2 linked regions of the Homo sapiens genome follow. The main gene of each other region encodes a partner of the protein of the gene in region 2 in a complex. Each region holds a gene or a part of one and is shown on either strand. Other genes may lie near its edges.

Region 1 (7,021 bases), on a different chromosome or scaffold from region 2:
GTGTGCGGGACCGCTGCAAGAAGGAATTCACAGGTGTGGCTGAGAGAATGGGCCCCGCCCTCCAGAACTCTGCCCAAACCCACTCCCATCACACGGGATTGGTGCTTAACAGGTGCTTAACCTGGCCTCTTCTGCTTAACAGACCTCATGACTGAGATGACCGATCTCACCAGTGACCTCCTGGGCAGCGGCATCCCCTTCCTCGACTACAAGGTGTATGCGGAGAGGATCTTCTTCCCTGGGCACCGCGAGTCGCCCTTGCACCGGGACCTGGGTGTGCCTGAGAGCAGACGGCCCACTGTGGAGCAAGGGCTGGGGCAGCTCTCTAACCTGCTCAACAGCAAGCTCTTCCTCACCAAGGTACCCCCAGCTGCATCTTCCTGGCCTGCCCCTGGCCCTGCCCCTTCTCCAGGGCATGGTTTCTGAGCCCGCCCCTCTGTCCCCCTAAACCCCTTTTCCCATCCCTTCTCTTTGGCTGCAGTTCATCCACACGCTGGAGAGCCAGCGCACCTTTTCAGCTCGGGACCGTGCCTACGTGGCATCTCTGCTCACCGTGGCACTGCATGGGAAGCTTGAGTATTTCACTGACATCCTCCGCACTCTGCTCAGTGACCTGGTTGCCCAGTATGTGGCCAAGAACCCCAAGCTGATGCTGCGCAGGTCTGTGTGGCTGTTGGGGCTGGGTGGGCCCTGGACAGCTGGAGCTGGGGTGGGGCCTCGGGCTGGGGGGTCTGCAGGATAGAGAGGCCCGCAGCCCCACCTGCTGACCCTGGCACTCCCCTTTCCCATCATCTCAGGACAGAGACTGTGGTGGAGAAGCTGCTCACCAACTGGATGTCCATCTGTCTGTATACCTTCGTGAGGGTGAGGGGGCAGAGGTGGACAGGGCTCCTGTCCAGGGAGGGTCAGGCCCTCCAAACTTCTAAGCCCTCAGCCACCATGCAGCTCGGACACTTGTGCCAGAGCAGAGACTCCTGCTCAGCCTGTCCTCAGTCCCCTTAAGCCCATGTCCTGTCCCCTTCCCCAGTGTGCGTCATGTCCCATACACCTCTGCCACCTGCTGGGGGGCCCTAACTGCCTGTGCTCTCCTAGGACTCCGTAGGGGAGCCTCTGTACATGCTCTTTCGAGGGATTAAGCACCAAGTGGATAAGGGGCCAGTGGACAGTGTGACAGGCAAGGCCAAATACACCTTGAACGACAACCGCCTGCTCAGAGAGGATGTGGAGTACCGTCCCCTGGTGAGGGTGTGCAAGTGTGTGGCCTGCAGTCTGAGTGCGGTGAGGGCGAGGGTGGAGAGTGTGTGGGTGTGTGGGGTCTGGACACCAGCTTCTGATGTGGTACCTGGATGTAGAGCTGGGTTGACCTCTGGCTGGCTCCTGGAGAGAGCCCATCAGACTAGCTTAGCAGGATAGCAGTTTAGGGCAGACTTTGATGATAAGGCCTCTATGTGCCCCAGGCTAGGGATGGAACTAGGGTAGCCACAACCAGGGTTTGGGAGAAGCCAGCCCTACCTTAGACCATGGGCTTGAGCTGTGTCAGGGCCTGACCCTGTCTGCCTGGCCCTCCTACCAGGAATGCGGCCTTGCCCACCAAGCCAGCCTCACTCTGGCAGGCACTTCTCTCTGGGTTTGCTTTCCCCTTAGTTACGCACAAGGGTTCCTGTGGGAAACCCCCATTCAGGCCTGCTGAACCCCTCCCCTGTCGGATAGGTGGGAATATTTGCTCCCGATGGTGGGAATGCAGGCTTCCCGAAACTCCGTCAGCCTGACCCATTCAGCCAGGAACCTGGGGATCTGAGTGATGAGGGACTTGTGCTCACTCATTTTTTTCTGCCATTTACCCCATAGTGGTTTACAAGTGCACTGCGCTAGGTGCTGGGGTCACAATGGGGAGGAAGCTGCTGTCCCTGGGGAAGGCAGGCAGGTGAAGAGACGAGAATTAGGGATTGTGTGGTGCGTGGGGATTGGAGGCAGCAGTTTCTCATGAGTTGTCTCTGCCCTTGGCCTGTGTCTTGGTCATCCTGAGTGCACATGAACCCTGATGGCTCCTGTGTGTCCTGCACAGACCTTGAATGCACTATTGGCTGTGGGGCCTGGGGCAGGAGAGGCCCAGGGCGTGCCCGTGAAGGTCCTAGACTGTGACACCATCTCCCAGGCAAAGGAGAAGATGCTGGACCAGCTTTATAAAGGAGTGCCTCTCACCCAGCGGCCAGACCCTCGCACCCTTGATGTTGGTGAGGGCGTGGAGAGCCCCTGGGGACCTGAGCCACTGTTGGGCCTGGGCTGGCCCCGGACCAACTCTGCAGGGACAACTCATCACTCAGGGTGGGGAGGATGCTGGGAGGCAGGCAGAAGCTGGCTTTGGAACATCTTTCTTGGACAGCCTCTCATCTGGGGAGGGGGTCCCTGCTCTTGGTCTTTGGAGAGGTTGAGTAAGGCTGCCCCATGATGGAGGGGCTGGTGTCCCTGTGGAGGAGGAGATGGGCTCCACTATGGGAAGGGTATCTTCCAGCCCTGCACCCAGTTCTGCCTTGCCCTTGCAGAGTGGCGGTCTGGGGTGGCCGGGCACCTCATTCTTTCTGACGAGGATGTCACTTCTGAGGTCCAGGGTCTGTGGAGGCGCCTGAACACACTGCAGCATTACAAGGTAGGAGGAGTGGGAGCTGGAGGAGGGCATGGTGGGGTGGGACTGGTGGAGGGATCACCAGCTGTGCTCAGCAGGTCCCAGATGGAGCAACTGTGGCCCTCGTCCCCTGCCTCACCAAGCATGTGCTCCGGGAAAACCAGGATTATGTCCCTGGAGAGCGTGAGTACCGCTCCCATCACGGTCCTCTGCCCCTGCTGTGCCCAGCCCGGAGTCATGGGGAAGGTCCTCTGGGCCTCAGGGCAGGCTTGTGCCTATTTCCATTCGGCCCAGGAAATCCCTCAACCAGGTGCCCCCACCCCTGGGAGAGCTGGCAAGAAACAGGGGGCCTGGGGAGGTGGCACCTGGGGAGGGGTGACAGCTGTGGGCTCTTGGCACAGGGACCCCAATGCTGGAGGATGTAGATGAGGGGGGCATCCGGCCCTGGCACCTGGTGAAGCCAAGTGATGAGCCGGAGCCGCCCAGGCCTCGGAGGGGCAGCCTTCGGGGCGGGGAGCGTGAGCGCGCCAAGGCCATCCCTGAGATCTACCTGACCCGCCTGCTGTCCATGAAGGTGGGGTGGGGCTGCCAAGGTAGTGGGGCCTGGGCTGAGAGGGAGCATGGCCACTCGTGGGATTTGGGGGTGGTGTGGGGCTCGTGCAGGCACAGTGCCGGGGGGTGTCTGAGGCTGGGCTGCTGCTGAGGGCCCTTTGCTGACCACACCTCTCTGCTTCTTCCTTCCCACAGGGCACCCTGCAGAAGTTCGTGGATGACCTGTTCCAGGTGATTCTCAGCACCAGCCGCCCCGTGCCGCTCGCTGTGAAGTACTTCTTTGACCTGCTGGATGAGCAGGCCCAGCAGCATGGCATCTCCGACCAGGACACCATCCACATCTGGAAGACCAACAGGTGGGGTGGAGCTGGGTGGGCTCTAGGTGTGTGTGGGGGGTCTTCTCTTCTGCCTCCCCAGCACATTCATCGGCCATGCCTGCCCCACCCGCAGCTTGCCTCTGAGGTTCTGGATCAATATAATAAAAAACCCGCAGTTTGTGTTCGACGTGCAAACATCTGATAACATGGATGCGGTGCTCCTTGTCATTGCACAGACCTTCATGGACGCCTGCACCCTGGCCGACCACAAGCTGGGCCGGGTGAGCGAGTCTGGGATGGACACGGGGGGATGGGTGAGGGTGGACAGTGCTGTGTGTGCACTCAGATTCCAGGCTTTTCTGAGAACTTCAAGGAGGGCTTAGGGGAGACCTCTGACCTCCCAAGCCAAGGCTTCATCCCGGGGCCACCTCAGTTTTAAGGGATGAGCAAGAGGAGGGGACACTGTGTGCCAATTCACAGGTGAAGTTGTGTGCAGCAAGTACAGCCTGGTGTGGCTGGGGCATAGAATGCTGGCCAGGCGTGGCAGTAGGCCAGGGCCAGTTGGTCAGGACTCACTCCTGGGGCAGTGGGAGCCACAGAAGGTCTGGGAACAGGGAAGTTATGTGACCAGACCTGAGAGTTTGGTGGAACATTGTGGCTGCTGTGCATGGATGAGCTGAGTGAGGGAGTCCCAAGAGGGCGCTGTGCTGTCCTGACAAGCAGTGGCTGGGTTCAAGCCGGGTGGGAGGGTGCAGGGCAGGCAAAAGCTGAAGGTTGGATGTGGGGGATGAGGAAGAAGGAGGGGAGTCACACATGATCCCTGGGCCTCTGGCTGTGGTAAGCTTAGACTTGGAGAAGGTGAGTCTGGTGTTTGTGGGGTTTCCAGATAGAGACATGGATTGTTCAATCCCAGAGCAGCTCTGGGCTGCTGATTGGGTTTAATTCCTTAGGGTGGTGGAGGTGTCTGCCTGCCAGTAGGGAAGTAGGGAAGAGAGTTCATGGAGTGTCACAGTTTGAGGGATGTGTGAGGAGGGGAGCTGGGAAGCACAGGAGACTGAGTAGTTGGAGCCGTCCGGGAGCACAGAGGTTGGGAGTCTATTGTCATAGCAGTCAAAGCCGAGAGTCCCCTGACATATGAGGTCCCCAAGGTGTCTGCTCAAGCACCCAGTGGGCAGGGCCCTCGTGTGACTCTGCAGGTCCATGAGTGGGGCTCTGCTTAGCCTAGACCCCCAGGTCTCAGTTGGCTTGGGACTTCTTGAGAGATACATCCCTACACCTCTGGGAAAAATCAAAATTAGCTTGGCACGGTGGCTCACACCTAGAATCCCAGCACTTTGGGAGGCTGAGGTGGGCAGATCGCCTGAGGAGCTCAGGAGTTTGAGACCAGCCTGGGCAACATGGCAAAACCCTGTCTCTACAAAAAATACAAAAATTAGCCAGGAGTGGTGGTGTGTGCCTGTGGTCCCAGCTACTAGGGAGGCTGAGGTGGGAGGATGGCTTGAGCCTGGGAGGTTGAAGCTGCAGTGAGCCATGACTACTCTGTTCACTGCACTTCAGCCTGGGTAACAGAGCGAGACCCTGTCTGAAAACAAAAACAAAAACGGAAAGTTCTGTCCAAAATTGTAGCACTGTCTTTTGGGAGCCATTTTTGTTCCACATGCTGTCATCATGCCTATAATGAGCTAAGAATCAAAGGGCCACACCAGGACCCGCAGGGCCACCTCCAGGGTAGACCCTATGTGGTGGCTGGGATTTTTGCCAGATCCTTCCAGTACCTCCCCTTCCCAGCAGAACAGCAAATGGTTCCTGGGTAGCTCAGGAGTAGTCCGAACAAAGAATGCCAAGGGTTCCCCCATGGGGAGTTGTCAAGAAGGCGCGAATCCTGACTCAGGTTGACAGAGGAGCTGGCCTTGGATCCCTGCTCATGGGGGACAGTGCCACCTCGAGATATTCTCACCTTCCCAGCAGCTCTAGGATGAGGAGAGGTCCTGAGAATAGAAGTATGCTGCCCAGAGCCCATGGCTGCTGGGACTTGAACCCAGTTCAGTTGTAGACGCTGTGTCTAGGTGTGTTAAAGTGGTGGAAACTGGACAGACCTGCTTCAAATCCTAGCTCAGCCACTGGGGAGAGAGGTGGTCTGTGGCCGCTTAGGTAATGTTCTGGGTCTGTTTGCTCATTTTTAAAATGATGACCCTGGGAGTGAACAGCATGCGTCCTGCCCTACGTACCGGGCTCTTGCTGGATCTAGATGGTGGCATGTGGAGCTGAGAAATGATTTCCGATGACATCAGAGACTGGACATTGGTGGAAGGGAGGGAGCAGCAGAGGCTCCTGCGGAAGGAAGTAGGCGAGGGTGACCACCTGTCCTGGTTTTCCGGGACTCAGGGGCTTCCTGGGATGTGAGACTTTTCCTTTTCAAAACTGAAGCAGTACTGGGAAACCCAGGACACTTGATCACTCGAACAGGGACCCTCATCCTTCCTTCCTTCCTCTTTTGCTGTCCTCCTGCTATGTCCAGGACTCCCCGATCAACAAACTTCTGTATGCACGGGACATTCCCCGGTACAAGCGGATGGTGGAAAGGTACTGGAGGGCACGGTGGGTAGAGGTTGGAGGGCGTGTGCAGCTGAGGCTTGGGGGGTGGGCTCTGGTTGGGAGCAGGGGAGTGGGCTTGTTTACCCAGCAGCTGCTGTGCCCTGGCTCTCTGGCAGGTACTATGCAGACATCAGACAGACTGTCCCAGCCAGCGACCAAGAGATGAACTCTGTCCTGGCTGAACTGTCCTGGGTAAGGCCTCCCTCTGCTTCTTGGGTTGGGCATAGGCCTCCTGCCACAACGGTCCTTCCCCCTTCACACTGCCCCTTTGCAGGGAAGCCCTTGGGAACCTCAGCAGCCCTGTGAGCTGGTTGGGGCAGGAAACATAAATGCAGAATGTTCCAACTGCCACTGAAAGACCAGGGCTCCCACCATCTCATCACAGAGCAAGCAGGGGTCTTGTCCTGGCAGCTGCCATGTACCCTGATTCAGCCAGGCTCTTGCAAGGTAGCTGGGATTCAGCCCCAGGCCTGCCTGGGTCTGCCTGCATGCGTCTTCCCACTGCTGTGCTTCCCTTGGTGGCACAGGTGTCCCCTTCACCTCTCCCATTCCTGAAACCGCCCTAAAATGTAACTCCAGGGAGTTTATGAACAATGTTTCTGAAATGTTGATGATGACAACCACAACACTAATAGCAGATATAATTTTGGGGTGTTGTGTGTGAAGCCCTTCATGGGGTGCTTTGATTGTCTTATTTGATCCTCACAAGAACTCCACAAGCTAGGTGACACCAATTCCATCGTCCAGGTGAGGAAGTTGAGGCTCAGAGATGTCCCCATGGAGGGGCCTGAGAGTGACCTCAGGAAATACTTGAGTTAGGCCAGAGCAGAATCATGCTGGGCTGTCAGCCTGCAAGTGGCATCTGTGCCACTTGGCTCTGGAGTCATCTGGGTGGCAGAGGGTCTGGGCTAGAACCTCAAGGGGGTGAGAGAGG
Region 2 (7,708 bases):
TGAAACTTCTGGACCAAATAACAGGACCCTGCCTGCCCCCCACTGAGGTTTGCACAGGTGCTGTGGGAAGGCGGCTGCTGATGCCCCAGGGGAAGCAGCAAGGCAGTAGAAAGCTGGGGCCCCTGCTGTGACACCCCCAGCTAAAGGCAAATTCGCTCAGGGAGGGTCACAGAAGCTGAAAAGTGACCCACAAGCAGCAAAGCAATTTGCTTATCCCAAGGATCGCCTTAACTAGTGCACCTAAAACACCACCCAGCTTCCAGGGAAGGCCCTGGCACACCCTCTCCACCTGACTGAATCAGCAGCTATCTCCTCCAGCAGCCCTGGACCCTGGACGGCAATGGTGATGGGGATGGGGATGCAATGGGCAGGGCTGAGGAACTGCACCTGCCAAGCCCAGGGCGGACCCTGGCCCAGGGAAGAGAGGACCCACCCCAGCTGCCTCTGCCACCTCCCTTCTCACCTTCTAGTCTTCTTCCTGGAATTGTCCAAGTTCAAAGAAGAAATAACTGCCCTGGTTGGGAACAGCAGGCAGCAGCCTTTCTCTCAGCAACTAGGCTCGACAATCAGCCGACGGCACGTTTATTTCTATATTTTCACGTGGCAAGTTTCATCCCCATGGGTCCTAGCTCCAACCCTGGAGCTCTGGCTCCAGGGGTCAGGAGGAGAATCTGCAACCACCCTCCTGGACCCGCCCATCCCTCCCTCCCCAACAGAAATGGAACCAAGAGAGGCAGAAGCCTGAACAGCCTCAATGCAGAAGCACAGAAGATAGAGAAAACCATTGATCTTTGCAATGCATTATTGATTTTGCTGTTGTGCTGTCAGCAGCGGACGTTCCCTCCCTCCTCAGTCAAAGCTGGCCATTAGCGTGCACTCCCAAGCTTTGGCCTAGACACACCCGCTTGGTGTGGGGAAAGCGGCTCTAGGTAACATCTGCCTCCAGCGGTCCACATGGAGAGGACTGTCCACAAGTGGATGATGTCACCAAGGACATCTCCCTGGCCCCAGACCCACTGGATATCAAATGCAACATGGTCGCTGGTCTTGCACTCTAAACCTCAGCCCAGGACCCCAGGCACTCAGGGGGGTCTGTGCAAGGCTGCATTTTCAACAGACTCTGGGTGTGCTTCTCAGGAGGTGGGCCCCCTCCCATGGAGTCCCTCCCTTGTGCTGTGCTGCAAGACCTTGGGCTGGCATGGCAGCTGGGGCTCTGCATCCCCACGGTGGCCTTTTGCCTGTCTGCACTCTGAAATACAGCCACTGAGTTCCACCGTCTACCAACTCCTAAGCGGCCCACCCTCCTGGGACCCCAGGGCTGCTCCTGGCACCAGTGATGTGTTTCTATTTCTTTGTTTGACTCGCTGAGTGTACCACGTACACTCTTCTCAGTCTGAAGGTCTGGCCTTATGGGAGGGCAGTCTTTGCTCACAGAAACAGGCCAGTGCATCCCTCATCTTCCCACCCCAGCCTCCCTGGTGGGTATGCTGAGCCCGCCTGCTTTCTTCTTCTGGCTGACGACTACCAAGACATGATATACGCAGACACCAACTGTCAAAATGACAATCAGGGCATTATCATCTCTACCAGAATCCTGCCCCTGCACTGGCCAGAGCTGCCTGTTTCTGGGACACAGTAAACATTCCCAAATAACCTCGCCTGGGCAGCCAGCAGGCAGGCCCCAGGCCTAGGACACATATGAGGTGACAGGCCACTGGTGTCACGTCACCCCCAGGAAAGGAAACTTCCGTTCCGTGGCGCCTGGTGGATTTGAAAAGACTCAGAACAGCAGGGTGAGATGCTTGGCCCCAGGCCCCACGTCCAGCTTGGCCTTCGGGGGCCTGGCCACCCACGAGCCTGGGATGTGCTCAACACAGAGTGAGGTTTTCAAAACAAAAGCAAAGCAACTTCATGTGGAAAACCTTCCGGAAAGCAGGACCCAGCCCTCGACACCAGGCCTCATTTGACGCAAACTGCCCACTTACAGACTCCCATTCACCCACTCTCCCACCTACCCCCCAAAATACTAAGCCAGAAAATAGAGGACAACCACGAGTTCAACTCTCCTTTACACGTTTTTACTGGCATAACCCCAGTAGAGCCAGCCCCTTGCAGCTCACTAGGCGGCTGCAACAGGTGCAGCCCAAGCTAAGGCTTGTGGTTCTCCTGGGCTGTTCTAGAATAATGCAACCAAAACCCGAAAGGAAACCGAGGCCTGCAGCACTCACTGCCAAGGCGGCGACCTGACCACTGCGGCCCAACCTGCCCCACCTGTCTGAGTGCGCGGCGCCGGGTCCAGTGCACAGGGTCCGCGGCCTCCGCGACCAAAATAGAAGCCCGCGGGGGCCCGGCCAGAGCCCGGCTGGCCGGAGTGGGGCCTGACCTGGCGGGGCCGGACTGGGCGGGCCGGGGCGCGACGGGGCCTGGCCGAGCGCACCGCCCCCTCCCTGGCCCGGGTATGCAGCGCGCCCCCGCTCCCCCGCGCCCAGAGGAGCCACCTGCGCGCAGGGACTGGGGAGGCAACCGGGAAGGGGAGAAGGCCGGGGAGGGATAGCAGAGAGGTCCAGGGGGTCGGAGGGGTCCGGGTAGGTGTCTCTGGGAGGCGTCCCAGGAGGGGCCCCGGGGGGATCCAGGAAGGAGTCCAGGGGTCCGGGGATCCCAGAAGGAGGCTCCTGCAGGGGTTCGGGGAGGGCCCCGAGGGTCCGGTGAGGAGCCTAGGGGTGTGGAGTGGGGGCTCCGCGGAGGGTCCAGGCCGCCCCCAGCGCACCTGCCCGGCCCCGCGCGCCCTCCCTCCCGCGCCAGCCCGGCCGCTTACCTGCAGCGCGCGTCCTGCCCGCGGCGGCTCCCGGCCGGGCGAGTTCGGGCGCCAGGAATGGCGGCGGCGGCGGCGGCGGCAGCGGCGGGAGGCGGCCGGGCCGGGGAGGGGGTGGCGGGGAGGCCCGGCGGCGGCAGCGGCGGCTGGGATGCTGCGGCGCGCGAGAGCGCTGAGGCCGGCGCGGGGACGGAGTGCGCGGGGCGGGCGCGCAGGCCCCTCCTCCGCTCCCCCTCCCTTCCCGCCTCCTCCCCTTTCCCTTCCCCTTCCTCTCCCCCTTCTTCTCTTCCCTCCTATGGCCCCGCCCCTTTCTTCCTCCTTCCTCCTCCCTCCTCCTCGCCCCTGCTCACCTCCCTCCTTTCCCTCCCCCAACCTTTCTTTTCCTCCCTTCTCTTTTTCCTCCTCTTTCTTCACCTTCGCAACACTCTTCCACCTCTCTCCCCTTCTCCCCACTTTTGCTCCCCACTCCTTCCTCCTCACCTCCCATCTCTCTTGCCTCCCCGCCAGGCCCAGAGGGTTGTCCCTCAGCCCTGGGTTGGTCTCTGCTGAGTCAAGCACCCGTTCCCAGGACCAAGAGGTGCCCTGTCACCCTCTTCCTCACCAGCTCTCAATAGACAAGCTTGCCCCTTCTGGGGTCCTGGATGAACCCCACCCTTTCCAGGCCTCCCCCAAATCCCCCAGTTTTTTTTCACCCCCAGACCCTGGGCCAGCTCTTCTGAGAACCTGACCTGCAGTGTGCGTGAGGCACGTGGCACCCAGAACACTTGGCTGCTGACTTTGGGCAAGAATATTTCACACCAGGCTGCTCCCATTCCCCAGGGGAGGGGCTGGCACCACCTGGAGTCTTGGTTTCCCTGAACCCCCGTGCTAGCCTTTTGCCAAACGTTCATCATTTTCCACTCTGTATGGCAAATGGTCCTCCTGTGAGGCTGCTGGTGAGACTTGTTTGTGACTAGCCCATGGGTTTGGGGATCTGGGGGCCCTCAGAGATGGTGCTGCTCCATCCAGACCTCTTCCCTCTGCCCCCAGGAGAGGTGACAGGGCTCGCACAGTGACTGGCCAGGCTGGGAGGCCTATTGAGGAACACAGTCCTGAGAAGGGGACACAGTTTCTTACGGAACCAGCTAAGATTTCCCCTAAATGTGAGGAGTTGGGGAGCCCCTCTCCAGGCCAGGTGATACCTCCCTGGACTACAGACTGCTGTTGAGGGGCAGGGGCCCTGAGGCTGTTTTCCTGCTGAGCACTGGCTCTGAGAGCCAGAGTTTACAAATGAAGCCAGTCCCAGGCCCAACAGTCACAGAGTTAAAGGCCCAACAGTCTCAGAGTTCCGTTCTAGGGCCTCCTGTGGTTTCTGTGGTTCAGTGCCGGAGCTCTGAGAATAGGGCTTCGGCCCAGCAAAGGCTAAGATGGCAAAGCTGGTGTCAAGCAGGGTGGGGTGGAGCACGCACCCCCTCCTCCCTCTACGGCATGGCAGCCACCACCCTCTTGCTGAAGAATCCAGACCTGGAATCTGATAGACTCCCTTGACTCACAGCTCTGCAGTTTCCAAATAACCTCAGGCCTCAGCAAACCTCTGTACCCTGCAACATGAGGACAGTGTGGTCGTCCTGGAGGGTTTGGGGAGCACGGAGAGAGAATGGCAGGTAAAGCCCACTGCACCGTGTGCTCGGGTTCAGTGCTGGTGACTATTACAGGAAAAACTAGAGAAGTCTTTTCCAAGCTCTTTTCCAATTGTAGGGGTCCATGAATCCATGTTCCACATCCCATTTGGATTGAAACATAATGGGAACGGATTAGGACAGAACTGGTTTAACAGCATTCTATACCCAAGGAGGGATGCACGCTTAGGATCTACACATGCAAGCATTGCACTGATTGGGGTGGGGTGGGGGGACTCTCTTTTATTCCTCACTAGTCAGACACATCTAGAATACCATGCCCTTGCTTGGTGTCTAAGGCAGCCAGCAGTATCCCGTGGGAGGGGAGTTGACCCACCGGGAGTCTTCAGCCTAGAAAATCAATGTGTGGAGCACAAGACAGAAGAACCCCAATATGTGCAAAACTGTCCCGGGAAGAAGGATTACTCTGTGGTGTTATGAAGGGCAGAATGAGGACAGATGGGTGGAAATTAGATGAGAAAGTGGATTCCTGCCTATCGTGGGCGCTTTCTGACAGACCTCACTGTGGAAGAGCCGGCTGCCCCTACAGGAGCGTGCCCTTCACAGCCAGCGTCTAGACAGGCCTGGGGCCACCTTGGGAACACACTGCAGGGAGGGGACCAGCAGCAGAGGGGTATGCTTCTCAACAACTGCTGAATTCTCTCCTGGCTTTTAGACCCACATGCTCAGAATCTAATAGAGGGCAGCCCAGGGCAAAGAAGAGACTTTGCATGGCTGTCCTGGGGCCCACACTTCTGGCATCATGACCTTCCAGAATACTGTCCTCTCTAGCCTGTTTCCTAATGCATACAGAAGAACATGAGAGAATTCAGTAAAAACTCCAAAAAGCTTTCCGCAATGCCCAGGCTGCGAACACAAGGGCTTCTTTGCACCGTGCTTATATAAAATTGCCCCCAAACATGTTTATTGCATTCATGAAGGAGACAGGACTCTTAGTTGTAAGTGATAGAACTTCAGCCCATACTATTGGCTCACTTGCATCCAAAGATGCCCCAAGTACCATTAGAACCGGGACTTGGATGCCATTATTAGGTCTTCCTCTTCCCTCCTCTCTGACCTTCTTCCCTGTTCCCTTCTCTCAGCATGATTGCCTATGTCTCCCAAAGTGACCAAGCTTGCCTTTTTATTCTTGTTTCACACTCTGTCGTGGGACATTTCAAACATAGATATAAAAGTAGCAGGCTGGGTGCAGTGGCTCACGCCTGTAATCCCAACACTTTGGGAGGCTGAGGCAGGCGGATCACCTGAGGTCAGGAGTTCGAGACCAGCCTTGCCAACATGGTGAAACCCCGTCTCTACTAAAAATACAAAAATTAGGTGGGCATGGTGGCACAAACCTGTAATCCCAGCTACTCAGGAGGCTGAGGCAGGAGAATCACTTGAACCCGGGAGGCGGAGGTTGCAGTGAGCCAAGATCATATACCACTGCACTCCAGCTTGGGCGACAGAGCAAAACTCAGTCTCAAAAAATAAAAATAAAAGTAGCTAAATGAACTCCAATCTTGCCTTACCTCTCACCCCCTTACTTTCCCCTCCAATATTAAGTTCAAGCATATCAAAGATCATATTAACCAATCTATTTCCTAGTTTCCCCAGAAATGCCAAGTGTTTGGATACTGAGACCATGCTTTGCAAAGTTTCTCTGCATTTCCCAGCCAGAATGTTGACACCATCTATATGCATATGAGCATAGTAACTGGATTGATAATAGTTAAGTCCCATATGAGAAAAAAACTCAAGTATGGCAGCACAAATAATACTCAGCTTCCAACACGGCCCAGGTGGATATGAGGAGAGAGGATCCTCTGCTTCCACTTTGCAGTGCAGGAGGGAACAGGCACGTAGTGGGCTGGGAGCCGTTTCCAGATCGCCCAGTGTGGAGCCTTACGCAGTGGAGGAGGTGTCTTCAGAAAGAGTCGGCCTGCCGCCTCTCACCTGTAGTGGCATGCAGAGTGTCCAGGCTAAGCTTAGAGAGAGAGTCAGCACAGCAAGTGGAGAAACGGGGTCCTCTGAGGGACTGTGGGAAGGTTGGCTCTGGGACCTGCCAGCAGCTTCTAGAAAAGTCCGGGGAGATGTCCTTTGAATGTGACCACACTCTGCAGAGACGTGGGTGAGCCACACCTCCACTGTTACCATGCAGTGGCTGCCAAGACCATGCTGTGACTCCTACTCCTAGCTCTGTTCCTCCCCGCACCCCAGAAAAGGCTGGTAAGAGTGTGGCCTTCCTGGCCAGCCTCTCCAAAATAGAGAGTCCACACCGGTCTCTGTCAGGCACCCTGATTGTTAGAACATGTCAATGAAGGAAGCCGAAAGGGATTTTGAAGGCTCTGAGATCCCCAGGCACCTCTAGCACCCTCATATGTCCTTACTGCCACTGAGACCCCCACAGGACCCACAGAGCTCTTTTTGTTAAAGCCACACTTGGAAACGTGGGGTCACACCAGCAGAAGCATAGAAATGAAGGCCGTGCTGAGATGTTATCATTGCTCTGTGCTCCTGCACAGCGTTCAACTGTCAAACCACTAAGTGCTAGATAAATCTGGTGAAGGGGTGTAATCCATTTTTGGTGCACACACTCATGGCAGCACTTCCCACATCACTGAACATGCAGAATGGTTTACCAAGCCATCCTTCGTCATACTGGGGAGTGTACAGGATGCTGATGTGGCCCCATCTGACCATTGATCTAATCAGTGCTGGTGTCTGCTGGATTAGACTTGCCCCAGCAAGTGAACTTGCCCCAGCAATGCCTTTCTGACCTTTAAGGTGACTGCTGTCACCAACTGCCAGACCATGGACCTCTTCGCATCCCTGGCTGGCTGGCAGACACCCACTTATGTGTCAAGGCTCTGCCCTGGCATCATTTCCTCCAACACAAACCCATGCACCCTGGGCAGAGCTAATATCCCCCACCCTGCTCCTCAGCTCGAATGTCACCTTACACGTCACTTCCTTGGTGCCTGCACCAGCTTCCATTATAATTGTTTGTTGATAGTTTTCTTTCTTCTCTGGTCTACATTTTGAACTTCACAGAGTGGTGAGGTCTACAGAACTCTTTTCAGAGTAATGTGTTTAAATGCATAAAGTCAAATACAGGATTCAAAAGGAAATGAATTATACTGAAATCCAGCTACCAAAATACTTTAAAATGTGATCTACTTGCTTCTTTTTTAATAATATGCTCTGGCGGCAGATCTGATAGCTGTAGTTTCCAAGT

What was found. The genes of interacting proteins can lie anywhere in the genome.
Region 1: the proteins of SEMA4D (region 2) and PLXNB1 are in contact, whole or in part, in a crystal structure (PDB 3OL2), measured with the Homo sapiens proteins. Residues at the interface, in NP_001358123.1 of Homo sapiens: Glu99, Lys100, Gly101, Phe158, Tyr179, Phe181, Leu182, Gly183, Ser184, Arg198, Tyr201, Ile203, Glu208, Val240, Leu264, Arg265, Thr266, Leu267, Gln268, Lys270, Thr347, Gln350, Ser351, His352, Thr353, Asp388, Gln392, Lys395; in NP_001123554.1 of Homo sapiens: Leu80, Pro81, Pro82, Glu87, Arg136, Pro137, Gly138, Asp139, Thr140, Tyr142, Gly178, Glu202, Lys205, Ala207, Gly209, Arg210, Ser212, Glu213, Arg235, Arg242, Asp359, Val360, Asn361, Ser362, Leu367, Pro368, Thr371, Tyr375, Ser379, Asp380.

The regions. Positions count from the first base shown.
Region 1 is NC_000003.12:48,406,081-48,413,101, reverse strand, and holds part of PLXNB1 (plexin-B1 precursor), read left to right. Parts: coding exon 1-33; intron 34-142; coding exon 143-360; intron 361-481; coding exon 482-660; intron 661-797; coding exon 798-864; intron 865-1,092; coding exon 1,093-1,239; intron 1,240-2,065; coding exon 2,066-2,234; intron 2,235-2,543; coding exon 2,544-2,647; intron 2,648-2,718; coding exon of another isoform or gene 2,719-2,721; coding exon 2,722-2,806; intron 2,807-3,024; coding exon 3,025-3,197; intron 3,198-3,370; coding exon 3,371-3,531; intron 3,532-3,625; coding exon 3,626-3,773; intron 3,774-6,010; coding exon 6,011-6,075; intron 6,076-6,203; coding exon 6,204-6,279; intron 6,280-6,361; exon of another isoform or gene 6,362-6,534; intron 6,535-7,021. UniProt on the Homo sapiens protein: Receptor for SEMA4D. Plays a role in GABAergic synapse development. Mediates SEMA4A- and SEMA4D-dependent inhibitory synapse development. Plays a role in RHOA activation and subsequent changes of the actin cytoskeleton.
Region 2 is NC_000009.12:89,495,104-89,502,811, forward strand, and holds the start of SEMA4D (semaphorin-4D isoform 1 precursor), read right to left. Parts: upstream 3,011-7,708; 5' UTR 2,816-3,010; intron 2,400-2,815; exon of another isoform or gene 2,272-2,399; intron 554-2,271; exon of another isoform or gene 464-553; intron 1-463. UniProt on the Homo sapiens protein: Cell surface receptor for PLXNB1 and PLXNB2 that plays an important role in cell-cell signaling. Regulates GABAergic synapse development. Promotes the development of inhibitory synapses in a PLXNB1-dependent manner.